Linked DNA regions of Homo sapiens. The protein of the gene in region 1 interacts with the protein of each later gene in a pairwise test. Each region holds a gene or a part of one and is shown on either strand. Other genes may lie near its edges.

Region 1 (3,500 bases):
AACTAATTATCCCCCAAATCTTTCCTTCCTCCTCACCTGTAACTTTGGGCTTTAAGTTAGGAAAAGAAATAAATGAAGGAATAAGAAAGGCTGAGGAAGAAAAAACGAGGGGGCTAAAAAGAAGAGCAAAAGACAGGAGGAGGAGAAATTGCTTCAGAACATTTAGAACTTTGAAAAAGGTGGAAAACATAATAAAAACTGATACCATAGAGAATTCTCTTACTTGCCTCTTGCCTTAAGAATTTTCATCAGCCTCTATATAGTAAAGTCCTTCATTAATAAGTTAAAGAATAATAAAGTCATCATGGATAATTGGAGTTAGCAGGTAATTTATAAGTCTCTTCATTTGGTCATTCACTTCAACTTCTTCCCTCATGAAATCTTTTAAAAGAATTTTAACACATACCTGACTGCATTCCCTTCCTTGCTTGTCTTCTTCACAAAAGAAATAGAAATTGCACTGGGTGCAGTGGCTCATGCCTGGAATCCCAGCACTTTGGGAGGCCAAAGCAGGCGGATCACATGAGGTCAAGAGTTCGAAACCAGCCTGACCAACATGGCAAAACTCCCTCTCTACTAAAAATACAAAAATTAGCCGGGTGTAGTGGCATGCGCCTGTAGTCCCAGCTACTCAAGGAGGCCGAGGCAGGAGAATCGCTTGAACCCAGGAGGTGGAGGTTGCAGGGAGCCAAGATCACACCATTGCACTCCAGCCTGGGCAACAGAGCAAGACTCCGTCTCAAAAAAAAAAAAAAAAAATAGAAATGTATCAATAAACAAATGAAAATGTTTAACCTCAGTAGTACATAGAGAAATGTAAACTAAAATAAGCTACTTTTCCCCCACTAAATTAACAAAAAAATTTTAAAGATTGATTATTGTCCAATGTTGTTAAGGATTTAGAGAATGAGACACTCTCAGACTCTACAGGTAGCAAGATAATAACTAAAGCTTCCTTAAGGTAATTTAGCAGAGTCAGTCATACTAATAATGCACACATCCTGCACCTAGCAATTCCACTGCTAGCAATCCATCCTACAGAAGTACTTCTTCCCTACCACCCACTATTTTATGCAGAACTGCAACATTGTTGGAGTGAAAAATTGGAAATAACCTAAATAAATAACAGAGCAGTGATTATGGTACATTCTTATCATGTAATACAATGAAGTCACTGTTTAAGAATACATAGAACTCTATGTATTAAGAAACAAAGATAGTATGTATGATTCCTTTTATGTTTTTGTTGTTGTTTGTTTGTTTTAAAAAAGGAGCAGCAACCACAGAAACCTTTTAGGAGTGTGAGAGGTCTCAAGTAAAGAGTGAAGTTAAAGGATCAGGTAAAGATAATCTTGAGGTTTCAGGCCTGAGGGCTGGGAAAATGGTAGGTTCCATTAACAGAAAATCATGAGACGTAAAAAAATTATTTATTCTTAAAGGCAACGATGGATTCTAGATGTGCTGAGTTTAGAGTTACGGATGCAACTTCCAGGATTATCAGTGGATGACTAAGACAAAAACGAGTTCTGCTCATGACTGAAGCTTTACTATTTAAATGATGATGTGGCCATGCCTTCAGACTCATGCTGTAATGTAGAGATATTCTGATTGAAGTGAGATTTAAGAACTCTGTGTTTCTAAATTCAGTATCTTGTTCAAGGGTCTGGAATCAATCATAGCTTAAAACCATGTATGTTGTCTGGGGATAAAAGACCTTAAAGAGTCCAGGAATATCATGGAAATAGGAGCTTAGATGGCACCACCTTCTATTCCATGAATGCGTCCAGATACTCCTCAGGCTGCCCACTGCCCTGTACCTCACCACCACCAGGAATTCCACTGCTTCAAACTGGCCTTAATTCTATCCTCAATGAAGTGGAGATTCGGGGCTGCTGGGGCCTTAATTCTCCCTTATCTGTGATGTTTACTACGCCTGAGGTCCTGGGAAAACTTGTGATCCCACACAACAAAGAATAACGTCTTACCTGGTGTGTTTTTTGTTCTGGGCTTCTTTTTCTTAGGACGACTAAGTGGAATATCATCTATAAAGCAAGAAAAAACGTCAACAGAAAAGGGTGCCTAAAATTCAATGCAGAGAACAGTCAGAAGAGAACTTTTAAACAGGGAAGAATTCTCCCTCTCTTCCCTGGGCCTGGCAAACGTTTATAGATTAGGGGAAGAAGGCAAGAAATTGAGAAGATCAGAGAGAGCCCACAGTGTGGTACCAGTAGCACACTGCATGTCAGTAATGTTAGAAACCATGACACAGAAAGTGGGTTCAACAAATATTCATCTGATCCCCTATATTTCCCAGCCTCCTTGCACATAGGTGTAGTCTATGACTGGTTCTGGCCTATAGGCTGTGAGCAGAAGTGATCTGTGTCATTTCAGAGCCAAACGTTGAAAGAGCCAGTGAGTAATCTTCCAGCTTTCTCTTCCCTTGTTGTGGTGACTGAGGAAGCCTCATGTTAAGATGGTGGGACCACAGCACAGAAGTAGCCTAGATTGCAGACCAGGCGCAGTGGCTCACACCTGTAATCCCAACACTTTGGGAGGCCAAGACAGGCAGATCACTTGAGCTCAGGAGTTCGACACCAGCCTGGCCAACATGGCAAAACCCTGTCTCTACTGAAAATACAAAAAGTAGCTGGGCATGGTGGCACACGCCTGTAATCCCAACTACTCAGGAGGCTGAGGCAGGAGAATGACTTGAACCCAGGAGGCAGAGATTGCAGTGAGCCGAGATCACACCACTGCACTCCAGCCTGGGCAACAGAGTGAGACTCTGTCTCAAAACAAAAGAAAAAAAAAAGTAGCCTAGATTGCTATATCAATAGTAAAAAGGTAGTGAAAGGTAATGGTCCCCCATTTTTGCCATAGCAGACTTTGTATTAATTAGAAATAACCCTGTGTGACACTAAGTCACTGAGATTTGGGGGTTTTAGTATAGTATAACCTTGTCTACCCTGACTAAATGAGACAAAGGAAGGTGCAGTCCTCATTATAGAGCTACAAATTAGCCAACAGTTATGTGCTGGGTGACCCCATTCAGGGATGAAGTGCTTTTATAATGGAAAGGTCATCTAGTGCTATGTATCAATGACAATTTTTAAATGGTAGTCATGGGAGATTATTTCACAAAAACATATTGTAGAATTACAAATTACACCATTCAGACTCAGTTTTAAGAGAAACAAACCAAGGAATCAAACTAATTTTTGAACACCAAATATTATATTTACATTAAACTAACTCACCTTGACTAACACGTCATATAACACCAAACAAATTTAATCAGCAGGACAAAGACAAAAAAGAAACAATTAATTAGAAACCTGTTAATATTCACAGTGAAAATTGACTTAAATCATTACAAATTTAAAATAAAATTAGCTTTCACATAATAGCTAGTTTACAAACTAGTTTACTGTTTATAATTAAGTGGTTTAATAACACTGCTAATAAAATAATGTCAATATTTTCTGAACCTACATATACAT
Region 2 (4,195 bases), on another chromosome or scaffold:
AGAGACACAGCATAGGCAAAGAGCAACTTCAGTGTTTTTCAAAAGAATGTCATCAGGCATCTGCAAAGAATAAAAGGGATGACTCTGTGTCTTTAGACAGGTGATGGCTGGACAAGCTTGTGTCCTTGGGATCATGACCTTTTCTAGTTCATTTTGGATTGGAAATGAATCTTTCTGGTCTGGATTATCAGAAGGACCAGAGTGAAGGATACATTGTCTCTTCCCTAACTTGCCTTTCTCTCCACCCCCACCCTTTTCCTTTCTGGGTTTAAAATTCTTAGGTAAAACCATATGCCTGACTCTTTTCTCCCTTCCAGTCAGGTCTTACTGGAAGGTGCCCAGTTCTCCATTTGTCTTTGTAGAATGGATACTTTATCCCCAGGGTCTCGGCAGGAGGAGGTGAGGGCCATGATGGTGAGGCCGAGCTGCCCAATGGTTAGATCTGCAGAGAAGAGAACACAACGGTTAGACAGAGACATCCTCAGGGGACAGCTCTCCAGGAGCCAGTGATGAGTTCTCTGCTTTTTATCTAGAGCATTTTGACTTTTTAATAATATGAGCAGTTCTTTGATCTGTCTTTCCAAAGAAAAAAATATGGAAGAATACGTAAGGGAATATTTAATCTAGTGGCCTCTGTGTAACTTGATGACTCTAGTATTTGGTATTTGAGAATCCCTGGTATTTGATTAGAAAAGCAGCAAAATACTCATATAGATTTATATACAGAAATTTACAGTTGCAAAATAATTTAAACTTTATCTAACTTGAGCCTGCAGGCAGCTCCTGGGAGATAGGCAGAACAGAGATTTTATTATTATTATCATTGCTATTAGTAGTAGTAGGGTTATTGTTACTACAATCATCTGCAAGGTGAGGCTGAGCAGTATCCAGTGACTTGTCTCAGATCCCAGAGTTATGACGTGGCAGAGCCAGAACCAGAAGGCTGCTCTTTCGACGTCTAGTCCAGAGCTCTCCCTGCTTTACTGACCTCCTCCATGAATGCTCTGACTTCACACATGTTTCTTTCCAGGTACCTTCCAGGTATGTAAGGAAAGGTGTTTGGGTAGTTTATTTACAGTCAGAGGCAGCATTGGGGTGGGAAGGACGCTGAGTTGGAATCTGGAGGTGGTATGTGATGTGTGAGATTCAGGGAGAGTGCGAGCGGCTCAGATGTCTCACCGTTGTTGTCGCTGGACATGAGCTGGTAAGTCAGGAGCTTCTGGGCCTTCAAGTTGTAGGCTCCGGCCAGATTCATGGCAATCAGGATGCTGGGGTTTGGGTAGGCTGATGAAGTCACCGAGTTCTCCATGAGTACTTGTATTCCATTGACCAAGGGCTCCTGTGCTGAGGGAACGGCTGAGAAGAGGAAAGCCATTTACTCACCTTCTAACCCTCATTCCTTCTCAAAAACATTATCCCCGTGTCTTTGATGCTTTTTCTTTCTTTCTTTTTTTTTTGAGACAGTGTTACTCTTGTTGCCCAGGCTAGAGTGCAATGGCACGATCTCGGCTCACTGCAAACTCTGCCTCCCAGGTTCAAGTGATTCTCCTGCCTCAGCTTCCTGAGTAGCTGGGATTACAGGTGTGCACCACCACGCCAGGCTAATTTTTGTATTTTTAGTAGAGATGGGGTTTCACCATGTTGGCCAGGGTAGTCTCGAATTTCTGACCTCAGGTAATCCACCCTTCTTGGCCTCCCAAAGTGCTGGGATTACAGGCGTGAGCCACCTCGCCTGGCCATCTTTGATGCCTTTTAGGAGAACACTTGATTAGCATTAGTGTCCTAAGTCACTAAAGAGAAATGGAGAAAATGGTGAGATTTTACTTTTGAGGACAATTAGTTTCTACATCTTCTCAAATAATCCATATCCTTAAGAAAGTGATTTTTAAATTTAGTAACTTCAAGCAATATGGCTCATGACATTTCTCATAGTTTCTATCACTTTCCTGGAAATCACTGATTTCCTTGCATTCATTTTTTTCCTTACTCTTTCATGAAGAGTATTAAAGATTTGGGATATAATTTATCCTCAGTGAGTACCAAAATCTCTCACTAGTATGTAGTGGTGTCTGGTCACAATAGCCACTGAGTGTCTGTCTTTGTACCATCAACCATTATTCCTGCAGTAGTACTTCCATCTCTATTATTTTTATTTATTGATTTTTTGAGACAGGGTGCTGCTGTGTCATCTAGGCTGGAGTGCAGTGGTGTGATTATAGCTCACTGCAGCCTCGACCTCCTGGGCTCAAGCGATTCTCCTACCTCAGCTTTCTGAGTAGCTGGGACCACAGGTGCATGCCACTGCGCCCAGCTAATTTTTTATTTTTATTTATTTATTTTTTTTGTAGAGATGGAGTCTCACCATGTTGCCCAGGCTGGTCTTGAACTCTTGGGCTCAAGCAATCCTCCTGCTTCAGTCTCCCAAAGTGCTGGGATTACAGGTGTGAGCCACTGCACCTGGCCCCATCTCTCTTAATAAAAAACATATAGACTTGTCTCTCAAAGAACTTATGCTATTAAGTCAGGAAGGATGAACAGCACACAATCACACTCAGACTTACCCATTTTGGAATTCCTATAGTGATTGCTATTTTCAACCACTCAGTGTCAGAGGTCACAGCCCCTTCCCCAGGGCAACTGCTTCCCTGACCTCCTTGGAAAAACATCATACTCACAGCATGAACTCTGGGTCTGGGTACTAGTCCCAGCTGTAGCCCAGAGAAGGCTCAGGAGGTAGAGGGCAAACCAGGCCATCTCACTCTCTCGTCTATGTCTCTCATCCACAGGTACCGCGATTTGCAAGTGGAATATTTCTTTACCTTCTCTTATATGTGCTTCCCTTTGTTAAATAATCTGTCCCCAACCCAGCCTCTCCTAACTGCCCCTGTGCTGACCTCTCCTTTCCTGATACAAGTAAGTAAATTTTCATTTGCTTATCTAAGTTTACCGACTATAGACCCTCCAAGGTGTCTGAAGGTGACTTCTAGGTTGCACAGTCATATGAGAAACCTGGGGCTGGGTATGCAGTGAAGGCAATGTTGAGAAAATGTCCTTTACCAAAGGCCTGGGTCAGACATCAGGAAGTTTGGATAATGTGCTAGTATCAACAAGACCTCTTCTAGCCCTTATTGTATCCAATCAGTTACCAGGCTGCTTTTTAGTAACTACTTCACTGGGATTTAGGCCATTCATAGGCATCAGCTCATTTTATGATCCTAGACACCTGCTTTACAACATGTCCTTTTAGGCTCTCAGGCAGGGATCTGCCAGGTGACATCTGGCTTTGTGAAATTAATGATGTCTACCTGGACCTGGATTCTAGCCTAGACTCTTTGAAGTTGTTTGACTTTAGGCAAGAAATGGACCTCGGTTTCCCAGAAATGGTTTTGTTTGATTTCTCTTTCCTTATCTGGAGATAAAAGCCATCTCAAACACCCAAAGCTTTCAGATATTATCTTTTAAAGTAAGTAATTAGAAAATGTGAGATCCATTAAGAATACATATTTCAGATGTGTAGCTACATTATAATGCAAATTATACTTCTTTATAAGGGAGAACTGAAAATGGTATGTTGAAATTATAAAGAAAGGAGTTTTGTTTGTTTTTTTCCTGCATGTAAAGTAGCTCATTTTAAGGGGATATTCTCCAGTGGCGCCCATCTTAGCATAAAAGTCAAAGCCCTTTTCATGACCTATAAGACCTTAGAAGATCTGGCTCCTGGTTTCCTTTCTGACCTCAGCTCCAGGCGTTTTCCCCTTTGCTCACACCGCTCCCATCACACAGAACTTCTTGTGCCCCTTGAACACATCAGCTACCTTTGCACATGATGTCCCCCTCAGCCCAGGACCCTCTTCTTTTAAATAGCCTCATGGTGGCTTCCTCACATCCTTCATGTCTCTGCTCAGAGGTAAGCTTTTAGAGACGCCTTCCCAGGCCACCCTACATAAGATCCTACATCCTCACCTCCACTGACACCCCTCATGCCCCTCGCCTGCTATAACTCATTGCCCTCTGTCGCACTAAGTGTGTGGTTGTTTATCGTTTGTTTATCTCCCTACTAGAATGTCTGCTCCACGAGGGAGGGGCTTTGTCTCTTTGGCTCACTGCTCTATCCTTAGCCCTTACAACACTACCTAGCTCACAGTAGAAATAAAATACTTTTTGAATGAGTGAATTAATGAGCAAATGTAAGACA

The links.
Region 2: the proteins of TMEM237 (region 1) and CBLIF interact in binary tests that used the Homo sapiens proteins (3 or more experiments, as listed by UniProt).

The regions. Positions count from the first base shown.
Region 1 is NC_000002.12:201,637,004-201,640,503, forward strand, and holds part of TMEM237 (transmembrane protein 237), read right to left. Parts: intron 3,263-3,500; coding exon 3,258-3,262; intron 2,043-3,257; coding exon 1,986-2,042; intron 1-1,985. UniProt on the Homo sapiens protein: Component of the transition zone in primary cilia. Required for ciliogenesis.
Region 2 is NC_000011.10:59,842,700-59,846,894, forward strand, and holds the start of CBLIF (cobalamin binding intrinsic factor precursor), read right to left. Parts: upstream 2,801-4,195; 5' UTR 2,755-2,800; coding exon 2,676-2,754; intron 1,357-2,675; coding exon 1,180-1,356; intron 443-1,179; coding exon 329-442; intron 1-328. UniProt on the Homo sapiens protein: Promotes absorption of the essential vitamin cobalamin (Cbl) in the ileum. After interaction with CUBN, the CBLIF-cobalamin complex is internalized via receptor-mediated endocytosis.